3 separate regions of the Homo sapiens genome follow, and all the other regions are linked to region 3. Evidence: fine-mapped expression QTL. A gene starts in region 3. Each other region holds a variant in brackets. All regions are shown on one strand. Distances are between the middles of the regions.

Evidence for each region.
Region 1: its variant is fine-mapped to the expression of TLE4 in whole blood (INTERVAL, PIP above 0.99).
Region 2: its variant is fine-mapped to the expression of TLE4 in whole blood (TOPMed, PIP above 0.99).

Annotation. Positions count from the first base shown.
Region 1 is chr9:79,722,803-79,728,006 of GRCh38, reverse strand. TLE4 (TLE family member 4, transcriptional corepressor) reads right to left here. Exons shown (of 20, transcript NM_007005.6): 19 at 4,972-5,048; 20 at 1,125-2,970. The coding sequence ends at 2,863. Among named protein-coding and RNA genes, the nearest start is that of LINC01507, 99 kb to the left of the region's middle. The variant C/T (reference allele first, on the strand shown) is at 2,157.
Region 2 is chr9:79,699,537-79,704,763 of GRCh38, reverse strand. All of the region lies in intron 8 of TLE4 (TLE family member 4, transcriptional corepressor), which reads right to left. Among named protein-coding and RNA genes, the nearest start is that of LINC01507, 120 kb to the left of the region's middle. The variant C/T (reference allele first, on the strand shown) is at 2,826.
Region 3 is chr9:79,569,440-79,574,666 of GRCh38, reverse strand. It overlaps TLE4 (TLE family member 4, transcriptional corepressor), which reads right to left and starts at 2,702. Exons shown (of 20, transcript NM_007005.6): 1 at 1,832-2,702; 2 at 881-978. The coding sequence starts at 1,876. RefSeq lists silencers at 1,091-1,330, 1,351-1,820, 1,931-2,090, 2,151-2,270, 4,181-4,230 and enhancers at 1,161-1,773, 2,501-2,590, 2,631-2,680, 2,691-2,820.

The DNA.
Region 1 (5,204 bases), 150 kb before region 3:
GTCGGTCCACATGGACAACTCTGCTCTGTGCCTTACCTAGATAATCACCTCCCTCTTACTCCAGACGCCCCCAGTCTTCCAGTGTGTACAGATATACTCGATGCATTAGTACCTTCCTCAGACTTGCTTTTCCCTTAGGGTTTCCAAATCTTTGGACCATATAGGTACACAAGCTGTGAAAAACCTGAGATAATGGGTAGGTGGCTAATATTGTATGTATATATTATATATACGTATATATATAAAATATGTAATATAAGCCAGTACAGTGCTCTGTACATAGCAGATATTGAAGATTATTCCTTCCCAGTCCAACATAAACTCCATCATCCTGTCTAGGGACACATCTTTGAAGATGATCACTTACCCCCATGTTTTTTATGGTTTTTAATTTTTCAGCCAGCCTTCAATGACTTGTGTGTCATCATTTGATGTAACAACGCACATGGTATCACAATGGAAGTGCGGCTTCCAGTCCAACTGATGAATACTGTACTTAACTCAGCAACCGAAGTATCTCTTATAGATGATCCCTCCAGACTACTGTGGGGCTTCCAATCCTCCTACTTAGTAGAACCTTAAAATGTCGGATTTTTGAGTCCCAGCACTTTAGAATTCTTAATTTAAACTCCTCTTTATACTGAATCTTCATACACCCAACCAGTAGCAGCCCAAGAAGCCTGGTGTAAAGACCTCAGTGTGTTATGCTAGAAATGCTTCCCAAATCCACATGGCTGGCAATGGTTTACATTGGCTAACTTAAAGCCCGTGTTGATGTGTCTAGTCCAATACGGTAGCCATTAGCCACATGTGGCTACTTGACACTTGAAATGTAGTTTGTGTGACTGGTAAATTAGATTTCTAGTTTTATTTAACTTTAATAAATTTAAAGAGCCACAAATGCCTAGGGTAACCATATTGAACAGCATAGCTCTAAAGCATCAAGGGTTTGAGGGACATGATAACCTTTTGGTAAGCAGTATTTTTATAAATCAAAGAGGTACTCAATAAATATTTAGCACCAACTGGTCACTGTTAACTTCTATCACCTACCTTTTCTAGCTCCTCTCAAGTAAAGACAAAACCAAAACAAAAACAGCAACAGTGAAAAAAACCCACATTACTTTAACAACAAAAAAAACCACTTTACTTTAACAACAATCTCCCTTGAAAAAACTAGGCATTTTTAATATATAGGAGTGGCACAGCCAAAGATAAAAAATAAACTAATGTCATCAAGACAAAGAATTAGAAAAATAAGCATACTAGAAGTTATTTATGTTTAATGCTTAAAAGTCTGAATTCACAAACAATCTACCATTATAGAAGTACTGGTGGTCAATACAATGCATTAGAACTATGTACAACGCACAGTTTAGTATCAAAATCTTTCTACACTGTAGAGTTTTACGAAACTGTTAATGACATCAAACACTAAGCACTTAAGACACCATTTTTTTTTTTCTGCTACCACATTAGGAACGTCAATGGACAGTCCATTTCAACTTGCAGCATCCATCCATTTCTAGTATGAAATTAAGTAATTTTCTACTTATACAATAAAGTATATCTACACGGTTCTTTTGATTTTGATCCATAGCAGCAAAGGCACTGTACATCAGCAGATCCACAGACTTAAAAGATTTTTAAAGCATTCAAACAAAAAATAATAAAAAAAGAAGTCACATATTATAGTTTAACAGCAACAACAACAACATAAAAGATAACACAATGTTTCTGGCACAATGGCACAGCCTGTGTCCATTTCAGGGACATCCAACTAAGACATGGAAAGAACCGGAGGTAAAGAAAGCAAGTCCTCATCCCAGGAGAGAGTCCATTCTTTGTGTTTTTCAGAGGGAGGTCTCTGCAAACCCTCCTCTGCTGTCCTTGTTTTGTAAAAGACTTAACTTGCACAGCAGTGGGAGTCCTCCCCATAACTGTGCAGCTCCCAAAGAGCATGCCACAAAATAACCCATAATTTCTCATAACAACAAAACTGACTAAAGATATATATATCTCCTTTTGCAAAGAAATGTGGCAAAAATATCCAGAAGGGAGTAAGTTCTCTCTTTGAGGCCAAATTTAATTTGTTCATCTGCCTATAATACAACAAAAAAAGGGAACTAAAAACATATTACAAAGACACTTGTCAA[C/T]GAGTCAAAAAAAGAAAAAAAGTCCAATTACTTTTATCGAATATAATCTAAAGCTATAGATATATTGGTTAACGTTGTCTAAATAGATCCAAATGAGTATGAGTTGGCCTGTTGTGTTCTAATTGTTCAGCCAAATTTCCAAAAGTCTTTAAAAGATGTAGAAAACAAAAACAAAAAAAACCTAATAACAACACAGCAACATATTGCTTCCATGTGTAATTATACATTTCACATCTCTATACAGTCATCAGTCTACACTTAGTGACATTTTAAATCAATTATTTTAAACCTTCCTTTCCCCTCCTTTGCCAAAAAAAGGGGGGGAGGGGTATCAAATACAACGCACCTTCATTATCAATGCAGGAGCAGACAGCTTTATTTAGTCAGTCATTGTTAGAAAGCCTTCTTTAAACAAAATAAATATATTACAGATATAATACATAATTAAAGATTCTTTTCACTGTTAAGTATGCTTATTCCATGTTCTTCCAAGTAGACAGCTGAAGATTTGGTATCACAGGTTTTTAATGACTATTCACAATTCAATAGCAAGTGGGAAGTGAGGTTAAGAAAGGGGATTAAACTCCACAACTGCAATGAGTATCTGAAATCCTTGGTTTTAGATGCGGGGATGGGGGTGAACAAAAAGGATGACAGAGCAAAGTGCTACCAGGAGGAGAAGTCCAGTCTGCATGAAGATTTGTCTTTAATAAATAACTTCATAAACTGTGGCCTTCTTATCCCCAGAGCCAGTGACAATGTATTTGTCGTCCACGGAGATGTCACAGCTAAGCACCGATGAGGATTCTTTGGACTAGGAAAGAAACATATAATCAAAAATGTTAAATACTGAAAGAAAATCCCATGAGTATGGAGGACTTAGAGCAAATGCAAATGTAATGTGCTCCTTGACCAAACAGAAAGCCCAGTCAAGGAAAGGTGAAAGGTGGTCATGGACAGTACTGCTGCTTTTTTTTTTTTTTTTTTTTTTTTTTTTTTTTAATAAGACAGGGTCTCCCTCAGTCACTCAGGCTGCAGTGCAGTGGTGTGACCATGGCTCACTGTAGCCTCGACCTTCTGAGCTCAAGCAATCCTTCCACCTCAGTCTCCTGAGATGCTGGGACTACGACACTGATGTGTCCAATCACACCTAATTTTCAAACTTTTTTTGTAGAGAGAGGGTCTCACTAAGTTGCCCAGGCTGGTCTCGAACTCCTGGGCTCAAGAGATCCTCTTGCCTTGGCCTCCCAAATTATGCCTGAGATTACAGGCATGAGCCACCACGTGGCACTTTCTTAAAATGGCAGAGGTGGATCGGATCCACCCTTGGCGACACCTCACCAGGTCAGTCAGGAGGCTTCTGTCCTGGGGACATCAGCTAGGCAGGCAAGCCAATGGCATGAGCACCTCTGCTGGCAAAGCAAGACCTTATTTCAAACCCTATTCTACCATTAAGACGGGGTGTTACTGGTATGAAAAACCCTCAACTTCAAACAGATGGCTTGGAGTCAGGTTGAGCTGTGGAACACGGCACAGGTCACTTAACCTGTCTGCACCTCAGTTTCCTTACAATAGCAAACAGGTAGACATTTTACCTGTCTACCACCTCAGAGGGATGCAGCAGAGTTCAGTGAGATCAGATATGAGAAATGGCACTGAGAATACATTAAAAAAAAAAAAAGAATGTAAAAATATTCCTAGTAAAAAGCCTAATGTTCCCACTGTAAAAATGTGACACAAATTTGCGAGAGGGGAGAGGTTCAACAGTTAAAAACATACCATAGAATTTTGTATACCATATTCAACTGTAGTATGAAGGATTCAATGTTAACTTTTAACTAAACTGTGCTCATTTAAAATGAAAACAACACAGGATTTTAACCAGGACTCTGAATACTTTAAACACTTAAAGACATAGTACTTATGCTTACTATAAAAAATGTACTACTCTTTTTTTAAAGTGCAGTTGGGACTATCTAACAAGTGATAATCCATGTTATGAAAAATGCTCTATTAAATTCTAAGCTTCATGACTGCAACAATTGGCGTTTTTTGTCCTACTGATTATCTTGCATACTATTTTGGATTCGATGGAATTAATCTACTTTATGATAATACCACTTGGTCAAGAAAACTGCAAGTCTATTATATTGCTTGTAAAAAAGAACACTAGGAAATAACATCCTAAATATAGAAGGTTAATAAAGGCAAGTCTTTCACCTTGCCTATGAAATTCTCACATACCAGTAGGAGAGAGGAGGAGAGCGTGTGTGTGCACGCGTGCATATATGTGTACTATGTCTACAATTTGGTCCTTCTACAAATAATTTCACAAGCTATACAAAGTTCCACTGAGTCAATAGGGAAAATAAAAGTTTATAAAACTGATTTTTATCAAACTTTTCCATAACACTCTTCTTTGGAAAAAATAAAATAAAAAAACTACTACTACTAACAAGAGTGTATTTAAGCAAAATGCTCAAGTTTTAAAATTAAAAATTACAAAAGACATACATGTATAAAATTCTCAGAAGACATAAAACCTCTACTCCAAAAAGGGATTGATGATGAAGCAACAGTGAGCACTGAATCAGGCACAGCACTGGCTCTGAGCTCAGAACACTGGGGACTATCCCCAGCTCCACGGCTTTGCTGTGACACTTAACCTCTCCTTGGACACAGTTTCCTTCTCTGTACAATGTGCATAATACTAGCTCTGACCTCCCAGGACACTTCTGCACATTATTAATCTGAGAGAATGCACAGAGAGTTTGATTAAACAAACATAAGTGGTAGTTAACAAGTTCCATGTTACCTGGAATATACTGGCCCCATAAGGTGTTCTCCAGGCATTCAGAAGGTTGTCCTTTCCAGTGCTTACAAACCATTTGCCTATAGGTAAAGGGTTTTGAAAAAGGCAATGTTTGTGTTACTCTGTCAGACACCAAGATTTGCTTTATAGAACACCAAACTATTAACAGAAAACTCATCCATTTGTAAAAAATAACTTTCACTTCAAAAATAAAGCCTATCTTTCTGGATTTAATC
Region 2 (5,227 bases), 130 kb before region 3:
AAGCATGGTTGAGAAATTATCATCTATTTAGCCGAGTGATTTTTAAGTCACTTGAGACTTTCTTTTCTTTTTATTCTTTAGCATATACTTGCAAAGCTGTTAAGAGGAGATAGGAGAAAGCGGAGGAGACGAAAGGAAGAAAACAGGGATATAAAGGGAAAGACAAGTAGCAAAAGACAAGGGGGAAAGATAATGGGAAAGAAAGAAAAAACGAGAAGAGGCAGAGAGATGGGACAGAGGGAGGAGAGGAAATAAAAAGGGTGGCAGGAATTAGTGTAAACTCAAAACAGAATGGGTTTGGTTTTACGGATATATTGTACTGTTGAAGTGCCTTTAGAAACTTGGGAAAGGGGCTGGGCATGGTGATTCACACCTGTAATCCCAGTACTTTGGGAAGCCAAGGCGGGCAGATCACAAGGTCAGGAGGTCGAGACCATCCTGGCCAACATGGTGAAACCCCATCTCCACTAAAAAGACAAAACAAATTAGCTGGGCATGGTGGCGTGCCTGCAGTCCCAGCTACTCAGGAGGCTGAGGCAGGAGAACTGCTTGAACCCGGGAGGCAGATGCTGCAGTGAGCCAAGATGGCGCCACTGCATTCCAGCCTGGGCGACAGAGTGAAACTCTGTCTCAAAAAAAAGAAAGAAAGTTGGGAAAGGAAGCATATATGAGAAAAAAGGGAAGGAGAAAAAGCCAGGTTTTTTTGTTTGTTTGTTTTGTTTTGTTTTTAAAGTTTGCTGGCTAATGGGAAGCCAGCATTTCAAGCTTCTATAGAAAAACTATAAAGTAGAGCTTTTAAGAGGTAATTAGTAAGTCAATGAAAAAAAAAGGGGGGAAAGTAATTTTGGGGGATTTGAGCAACCAAAGATGGCAGTCATGTGACATATAGGTCATATTTATGAAGTTTTGCTCAGCGCCATATGTTAGGGCCTGGAAGATACAGAGTGGCAGGAAAAACACCACCTGCAGAAATGCGTATTATTCCTTTCTCACTCCTATAGTTTTCATGAACCCACACCTTTCAATGTCTGGAAACCTAGGAATGCCACTGGGGCCAGGGAATGGAGAAAGATGCTCCATGCCTCTTGGGACCACACTTAGGCTCAGCCTGTATGCTTCACCTCTGCTTTCAAGGAGCTCTCAACTGGAGAAGTCTCCTATACACACAAGAGACGTGGGTGACAAGACCTGAAGCAGAGAATGACTCTATCTGCCATGAAGGTCAGGTGGTTATTGGGCACATTTAGATAATATGAGAGCTTAAAATCATGGATGAAGAAGTGAAAAAAGTGCCAATGAAAACTGGAACAATCTTAACAACTGCCTAGTGACTAAGCTTCAGACAGACCAAAGAAAAGATCTAAATGCAGGTGAGGTGGGAGAGCGGGAGCTGGACTGAGGGCTGCGCTATGCTGCTGAGTGGTGAATGGCAAAAACCTGAGTAACACAGTCCCTTGGCAGGGCACCAGGGCAGGGCTCCCAAGTGTGAATGACCCTAACCCAGGGTAACAAAGGGCTGATCTTGGAGAGTAGTAGAAAGAATATCTGAAAATCTCTATGGAAAAAAAGTTATAGGAAGAACAATCACCACTGGAACGTCTCTGTCTGGCATGCAAATCAATTCAGAAAACTGGTCAGGAAAGCTCTTCCTCATTTATAAATTTATTTCATATAAGACTAACTCTTTGAACGGGTTTTTTTTTTTGCTTTATCTTAGTCTGTTGGTAATAACTGATGTTTATAAAAACATACAACATTTACGAGGCCCTTTTAATTAACTATGAGAGAAAGTGTGTTACCCAGAACTTTTGGGTCTATGTTCCATTTTATTTCCACTGAGCCTTAATGTCACAATCTCTTTTGTGGCATTTCTGAACTTCCAAAGCACATTGTTAAGAAGATTGATGGTCTTTCTTCATACCTGTGGTGATGGCAACTCTTTATTACAAGCTCCAAAGATGTGCAGGTGGGAGTTTGGTGGGGGAGAGAGATGGGACCAGTGAGTGGGTGCCCACTGGGCGGGCTGGGGACCTCTAAATCCGTCCCTGCTGTGCCAGCCCCTCTTGAGGTTTTATATGAATACTCTAGCCCTAGACCTATCAAACGTTCAGCCTTAAACTTAGTGGCAGAAAAGACTGCAGGCATTATTCAGTAAGGCTGAAGATTGACACAAAACATTACGAGCCAAACGATTTTTTAAAGTGGACTACTTCTTGACTTTTGTGTATCTCTGCTGAGTTCCAAACCTCACTCCCAAGCCATGAGACTTGGGTCAACACTTCTGCTTTGCTTTCACACAACCCAATGCACTCAGTAGGTTTTCATGACCACTGAAACCATGCATGCAATCATCATCTGTGGGTTACTATCTACCATACTTCATGCCTCAATCCCGTTTCTAGTTTTCCCCTCTCCAGTCTATCCACCTCACTTCTGGAATTCATACTTCCCAAAGAGAGGTTCAGCCTGTTTTAACTCCTCTTTTAAAAGGACAGTTTCCTACTGTTCACAGGGGGAAAAAAATTCCAAATTTCTGAGTATGGCTGTTTTCCAAAGTCCTCACTCCACACCCCAATCCAGAGTCCTGGCCTTGTATCCTACATCAGCACTATAAGCCAGTGTTCCCCTGGGCTCTGTGTATTTTCGTTGCACCTGTAGCCTTTTTTCCTGGCTTATGGCAATGACTATTTTCTCAAGATCTATCTTTTGAAATCCCCCACTATCCTTAAGAATCAGCTCTAATGTCACCTTTCAAAGCTTCCTCAGATGCTGTCAGGCAGAATTAATCATTCATTCCTCTTTGTTCCCTTAACATTTTGTTCCTC[C/T]AATGAGTAAAGCACTCACAACAAATTTATTGCTGTGTTTACAAGGCCACTTCCCACTTTAGGCTGTGGGTTCCCTGAGGGTGGGGCACCTAGCATCATGAGCAGAAGGGAACTGCCCAGAAATATTTCTCAACACAAATGGCTGAACATCCCCTCTGCACGCCTCAATCTCACTCCAAATCTCTTATGATACATTCCTTTTCTGAGCATCACTAGGATGAACAATTCCATGGGAGACCATTCACTAGAGTAAGATTTGTGTTGTGGTGCCCTTGGAATCGGTAATATGGCAATTCAGCCCCTTCCTCACCTTTGCTCCTTTACTTACCTTTAGATGCACTAAATCTGGCTAATTTCATATTTTACAAAAAGAAGAAAAATGGAGTATATATATCTTTTATTAACAATTCTCTGATTCTGCTATATTCTATTGAAAGTTATTTCCACATTGTTTAAGAGGAAAAATTTCTAAACAAAACAATTTCTTAAAAATACTAAAAGGTAATGCCTATTTAGATTTAGATTTTATGTTCATTTATTGGCTCATATGTACAACCAAATACTTTATATTTTTCTTAAGCTAGCTGTTTCCGGTTTTGCAGGCAGCGTTGTATTTTTGAAGTTGACTGTAGAACAGAGTTACATGTTGGAGTTTCTTGGTAGAATGATAAAGTAGTTAATTATCACTAGCATTTAAAGGTTAAGCTGCACAGTGGGCACTGGGGCAATCAGCAATGTTCTAATAACATAATTACTCTGGAATCAAATTGGACTTGGCACAGACTCTCATCATGAATCTTGTAAGTCCACCATTCTGCCACAGGAATGCCACTTGGATCTTTGCTAGGCATGTGAATAAGAGGAATTAAATAAATACCGATAAAGTCATGCTTTTACTAGAAAAGCTTTTTATTTTATTATTTTTTATTTCTCTATTATTATTTTAAAAGCTCAATTTAGATATTTCTCAAGTTTACTACATAAGAAACTTACTGAAGCTGCATTGTGACCCTATAAATCTACAAATTTAGAAGGATTAAACACAAGTCTTTCTCACTACAGTTTGAGTGTGCGTGTGTGTGTGTATGTGTGTGTGTATCTCAGCAAATCTGTTATGATTGGAGAGTCACGGTCACAAGCAATGGCTGATCCAGAGAAAGCAAAATACCCTGAATGTGAATGTTTAGTAAAGCTCTGGATTTTAAAAGTAAACACTTATGCTGGGATATTTAAAAAGAACAGGGTAGATCTGTTTAAGAAAAAGAGCAGGAAAACAAGGAGAAACCAAGAAAAAAATACTAAAGGATTAAAAGACTTATTACATGGAAACCCCAATTGCTTTGGTAGCAAAAGGTAAGCTTTAAAAAGCTATAATCAGGTTCTAATTTCACTATGAGAAGATTCTAGTTCCTAGATTAAAGACCATCCCAGACTTTACTAGGGCTGTTGACCAAGTCAGATGGAAAACTGACACCTCCAGCAACTTGAAAGGGAAGGCCCCACCCCTCCACCTTTACTCCTCTGCCACCTCAAGATCAAAGATGACAATGTATGAGAAAGACTTCTATAAAGTAACTTCCCCCTCCAAAAGAAGATGCTGTTGTTATAATTAGCTAATTTTAATAACAGGGAGCACAGATTTTAATAGCAGGCAAGAGCATCTCTCTGGAGTCAGACTGCCTGGTGTGAGTCTAGAGTCTTCACTTAATAGCCGTAAGGGATGTTGCTTAGTCTCAGCCTCTCTTTAGTCTGGGGTAACAACACACCATTCTCAGCCCCACGGGCTGCTTTGAAGACCAAGAAAAATAATCCACATAAAGTACAACGCGCAGTCCCAGGCACATAGCCTAGCCCCTCAACAGTGCAACTTAGTCCTATCACTGTATACTGGACTCCAGTTGATTCTACTTACTTTAGAGATTGGGATGGTGACCTAGTGTGGATCTTCTATTTTAAACCTTATGTTAGGTCTTTTCTAGACATTTGTGTAGGACTTCCCCCAGCATAGATATTCTGATGCCCCATAATTATAGGGTTTTAATATGCTACTATTCACCAAAACTTTTCTCCTTTCAACAATCACGATAAGGTTTTGGTTCAATACTGCACAGAGGCAAGACTGCAAATACCATCTCCACAATGGACTTTCTAATTTGATTTCAAATGCACACCATGCCAATTTTGCTTTCCATTCACACAGGTGCAGTGCTTAGACTTCCCTGCCCATAGACGATAACAACCAGAAAGAACATGCTAAAGGTCGCATGGAAACCATGATCAAGCAGCCTAAAACTCATTCGTTATGGCTTGTTTGCTCATCAGCTATGGCCTTCAAAAATCGTATCCACACGGTACAAAAGGGTAAATCAGTTTTCAAACAGATAAATGGGATAATGAGGAGT
Region 3 (5,227 bases):
GTTTTTAGGATTTTTTTTTTAATTAAGTTTTAAGGAAACAAATCCTCTAATCAGTTTAATTCAGGAACTTCCTCCAGAATTGAATATTCACTTAATAAAACAAACACGAAAATAAACTTCAATAATGACTGCACATACAAGCACAAATAAGTCCTCCAAAACGTCACAAGGGAATTTCTTTAATGTTCTACAAAGAGATTAATGAAAATATGAATCAAGCATGTCTTATGAATGATATCTTGTTTTTTTCCCTCCAAAACACACAGACAAGTTGAATACCACCACCCAGGGGCAAAGTGTCAATCGGGTTCAGTGGTTTGTTTTGGTTCTTGCATTTATGAAATAAGAATTAGGCATCATTAAAAAGCCAGCTAAAGAAAAATGTCTCAAAGGCACCCTAAGTCTAAAAATCGTCTATAAGATGAAAACATTTTTTTTTTTTTTAGCATAAAAGTAATGAAATCGCTCACTCCGACTTCCCTGGGCTCTCAGCTCTTCAGTGGAATGGCAGAAAAAAGTGAGAAGGAATCAAGTCCGGAGTAATAAAGAACCAAGGATGTCAAAAGGCCCCAGAATCTTCCCAACCTTTCATTCTCCCGGCCCCAATAAATCAATATCGAAAGTTTGGCCTCAGCGTTTTCCAAGTCTCCCCAGTTTCGATTGTTCTGCCTTCTTTTTATTTACGGTAGAAGAAATGTTTAATTTATTTACACCTGCCTAAGGAAGGAGGCCTTGATTTGCCCTTTCTGCCCACCGAGAAAAAAAAATAATACCTTTGTGACGCCCCCACAAAAAAGGAGGAGGGTAAGTGTTTGTGTGTATTTGTCGGGGAGACAAGAGCTAAGCAAACAGAAGGATCAGCTAAAGTCAATATCGTTACCTGTGGTATTGAGCCTGTAAAAACTGAAACTCTTCCTTAATCCGATCACAGGATTCGGAAATTGTAAATTTAAAGGGTTGAGCAGGCTGATGCGGTGCCTGAAGAACAACAATAAAATATTTAATTAGCCCACATCACAGGCGAAGCAGGGAGACGGAGAAAACCTACTATGCGGCGTTAGCGGGGGGTGAGGGTCATCGCGCACGCAAGCAAAGAGAGATTAAAACTCTCCTCCCGCAACCCTCCTCGCGCCCAACAGCCCAGGCAGAGGCTGGTTTCGAGGTGGTCCTGGGGCCCCGCATACTCCCGCCCGCAGGCCCCCGCGCCCCGGACCCCGAGGGTTCGAGTCCCGTCTCCCCTCCCCGGCCAAAGACAGGCACCCAGGGACCCGCGCGCCGCGCCCACTCCCTCCTCACCCGGAATCGAAACTGGCCCGTCGGGGGGACCCGCGCCATGGCGTCGGGCTGCGGTCAGGCCGGGGGAGGAGGGAGGCGGCCGCCACCCTCTCGGCTCGTTCGTTCGCCCGCTCGCCCCGGCGGCCCGCGGCGCGAGGGGCCGGCGCCCCGCACTTCCAAACCGCAGCCAGCCCAGCAGCGCCGCTGCCGAGGGCGCCCTCCCCGCCCGGGCGCGGAGTCGCGCCTCCTTCATCGCTCGCCACCCCCCCTCGAGGAGTCGCGGCGCGGGGACCGCAAACGGCTCGGCGCGGCTTCCAGGGGCTTCAAAGACAACAATAAGAAAATGGCTACAACTCAATTGCCTCTCCGCACCCCCTCCGAGGGCCACCGCGCCGGGGGGTGGGGGTGATGGCGGGCGGGCTGCTCCCGGCGCGGGGCGCCGATTTCGGGCGGCTCTCCACGCCCCTCCGGCCAAAAGACACAACTCGGTGCGCAGGGGGCGACGCGGGGAATCCCCCAGCACCCGGCGAGCCCGCGCCCCGCCGCCCGCACTCACTGGGTGTCTGGTCTGCGGGTACATCTTGCTCAGGTCGCGAATCATCCAAGCCGATTTAGTTGGCTGCGCTCGGCAGAGGCGCGCGGCTCATTGGCTTTAATGACCCCGAAGAGGAGGCGGCCGCGGCAGCGGAGGCGGCCGGCTCGGTCTGAGGGGCGGCTCGGGCGGTCCCGGCCCCCGCCGGGTCTCGCGTGACACGGGCGGCAGGAACGCGCGGCGGCGGCTGGGTGCCGGCTGCCGGGCCGCTCCGCATTCCCCGCGGGCGTCACTGGCCCGCCGCGGGCATTGTCCGGCGCGCGTCTCCCAAGGCAACGCTCCGACGTTCGCTCCGCCGAGGCGCACCCGCCGAGCCCGGCGCCGCGGCCGCCGCTCACCCGGCCGGGAAAGTGCGGGCTCCGCGCCCCACCGCCCGCCGGCAGCTCCTCTCGCTCGCTCTGCGTCCCACTCCAAACTTTTTTTATTTGTCTTTTAATTGGTTGTTATTCCTCCGAATGAATGATCTTTCTTCTTCCCTAAAAGCAAACACAAACTCCTTTGGTTCGGAAGAGGTCTCGGCGGTGCTTTTTGGTTTCTCTGGAGATTTTTTTCACTTCACAGCAACGATCTTTTAAAAGGCACCTTTTAGCTTCTTTTACCACATCTCATTTCCTTATTTCTCTTCCTTCCTGTTTTCTTGTCTTTTTTTTAACCCCAAATTGAAGGGGATTATAAAAATAAAAGAGTGAAACGCTTGCGGCTTTTTTTTTTAATTCTCTCTCCTTTCAAACTCTGCGAACACCACCTCAAAATAATATACAAGTGTGTGAGAAAGGGGGAAGAAAGCAGCCAACAACCCAAACACCCGCTCAGCACAGCTCTAACAACACGCTCTGTGTAGGTGACTTCTTTGACCAAATTTAGCAGCAGCTAATCATTAACATTCTGATACATATTCACAATCTTCCGCGGGGCGGCCGCGCAGCATCCCGGGAGATGTAGTCCGCCCCGGGCGACCCTGCCTGAGAATACGGCCAGATTGACTACAATCACCGGCCCGCCATGCGAGCGCTCTGGCGAGCTCTCCAAGCGCCCCGCCCACCCCCGTTGCGGTAGGCGTCTCCACCAACCAATCAGAGGTGGCTGAACATTAATCGCCGTTCTGTGTTAGTGCCCATCATTTCACTGCTGACAAATGGCAAGCCAGCGGGGAGGAGCCAACCCAGCTGAAACCCACGTGGGGGCCGGGCGTCGCCTGTAGCTCCGACCAATTAACGAAGAGGAATGAGGTTGGCGGAGGCGGGGCGGAGATGGCCCGCCCAAGGCGGAGCTTCGCCTTGGCTGACGTTCCTTAGCGCGAGCGTTCGAACCGGGAAAACATTTGTTCAGCTGTCAATCAAAGTAACGTGGGGCTGGGAGAATCGGCGGCTGCTGCTGTTGCTGCTGCCCTGGCTGCATCTTCAGAATTAGGTGTTGGTGGTGGTGGTGGTGGTGGCGGCAAAATAAAGAGGGTGGAGGGAGCGGTGAGCCTGGGGGCTGGTCAAAAGATCTTCTTCCGAGTCTCGTCCTCCCGCCCACCCGTCTCCCAACCCAGACACCTTCGGCCCCTCGCTCCGCAGCCGCGCCAGGAATGCGGACTAATTAGGGTCCAATGTCTCCTTAAAGAGACAAGCTCGGCCTTGTGTAACGCGCCGAAACCCCTGTTGAGACAAGAGGGGGAGGATCACGCTGATCTTACTTCGTTCGGTTCACATCAATTTTACGCGCCGCTGGAGCCGGCATAATTTTCCGTGTGAACGCGACTCGGTCCCCGTTCTTGTTTAGAGCCAGAAATGGAGTCGCGAGATGCTGGCTGGGGCCGGGGCCGCGGGGTGGGCGGGGAGCTCGTCCCTCCAAGCCCCGCGGGGGCTGTGATTGCCATTTAGTTCCGAAACAGGCCTCCCTCCCTCCACCCCCGGAGGCACTCGGAGAGAAAGCGCATCCCGACGCTCCATCGGGGGTCGCGGGGGGCAGTAACCGTGGGGGCTCCGGGTGGGGCTGAAGATCCGGGAATCAGAGACGCTGGACCTCCAAAGAAACTTTGCCGACTGGGCCACGTGAACCCCGAACACGGTCGGTACTGAACAGAGCAGGCCGACGGGGCACGGGTAGAAAACGCCCCTGCGCGCCCTGGGACGTTCCCTCCCCCAGATCAGTACCAAGACTGCGCCTCTTTTTCCCGCTCTTTGGAGAAGCAAGTCAAGTTTATCCCCGTTAAAAACAGAGCAGGGTGCCACGCGGGCCCGAGAGATGGCGGAAAGGTGGGGGTGGCCCCAGGGGCAGATGCTGGAGGAGGAGAGAAAGGGGCAGCCATGGCTGAGGAGGGGCACCCCTAGGGAGGGGCCTGGGAAATGGGGGCGGCCTCCGTCAGTGCGCCTTTCCATCCTTAGTCCGTGTCCAGCTGGAGGCAGCGCCCCAGTTCAAGGGGAGGCTGCTGAGGCTCGCAGTCTTTTCTAGCGAGCGGCTAATCTTGGGGACAGGGAAAAAATTCGGAAAAAGTCAAGAAGAGTGTTGGCTAATGTAACAGGCTGGGTTTTAGACGTTTATTTCTATGCGTGCTTGCCTACTGTAACTTGACCTGTTGGTTGAGATGGTGCCGCCGGTTCGGCGTTAGTGGAAAACTATTCTTCTTAATGATATCCCTTTCCTCAGTGGATGACTCGGTGACTTAATGTCCAACCTAGCACGTTCTGTGAACCTCCTTCCGTTCTGGCCACTGTAGTGAGCTGGTGCAAAGGAAGGCTATGGTGGTCTTCACCTGCCTCTAATTTCATACTAAAAACCCAGAGCCAAAGTTCACAGAATGTTTCAATTCGGCAAATATTTTCGCCTCCATCCCCAAAATAAGAGGACAGAGAAGTCCTTTTGACAGTTTTCTGAACCTCTGCTGTTCCATACCTAGCCACATGTGACTGTTAAGCACTTGAAATGTGTCCAATTCAAAATGAGATGTGCTGTAAGTACACATATATGTGGCATTTTGAAAAAATTAATGTGAAAAAACTGCAGCTCAATAATTTATAATTATGTCAAAATTGTGATATTTTGAATAACTCAATTAAAAATATTAGTAAAATTAATTTTGTCTGTTTCTATTTATTTATTGTATTGATGGGGGTCTTCCTGTGTTGCCTAGGCTGGCCTCAAACTCTGAAGCTCAAGCTATCCTCCTGCCTGAGCCTCCAGTGTTGTTGGGACTGCAGGCACACACTTTTTTTTTTTTTTTTTTTTTTTTTTGAGACAGAGTTTCGCTCTTGTTGCCCAGGCTGGAGTGCAATGGCACGATCTCGGCTCACCGCAACCTCCGCCTCCTGGGTTCAAGCGATTCTCCTTCCTCAGCCTCCCGAGTAGCTAGGATTACAGGCATGCGCCACCACACCC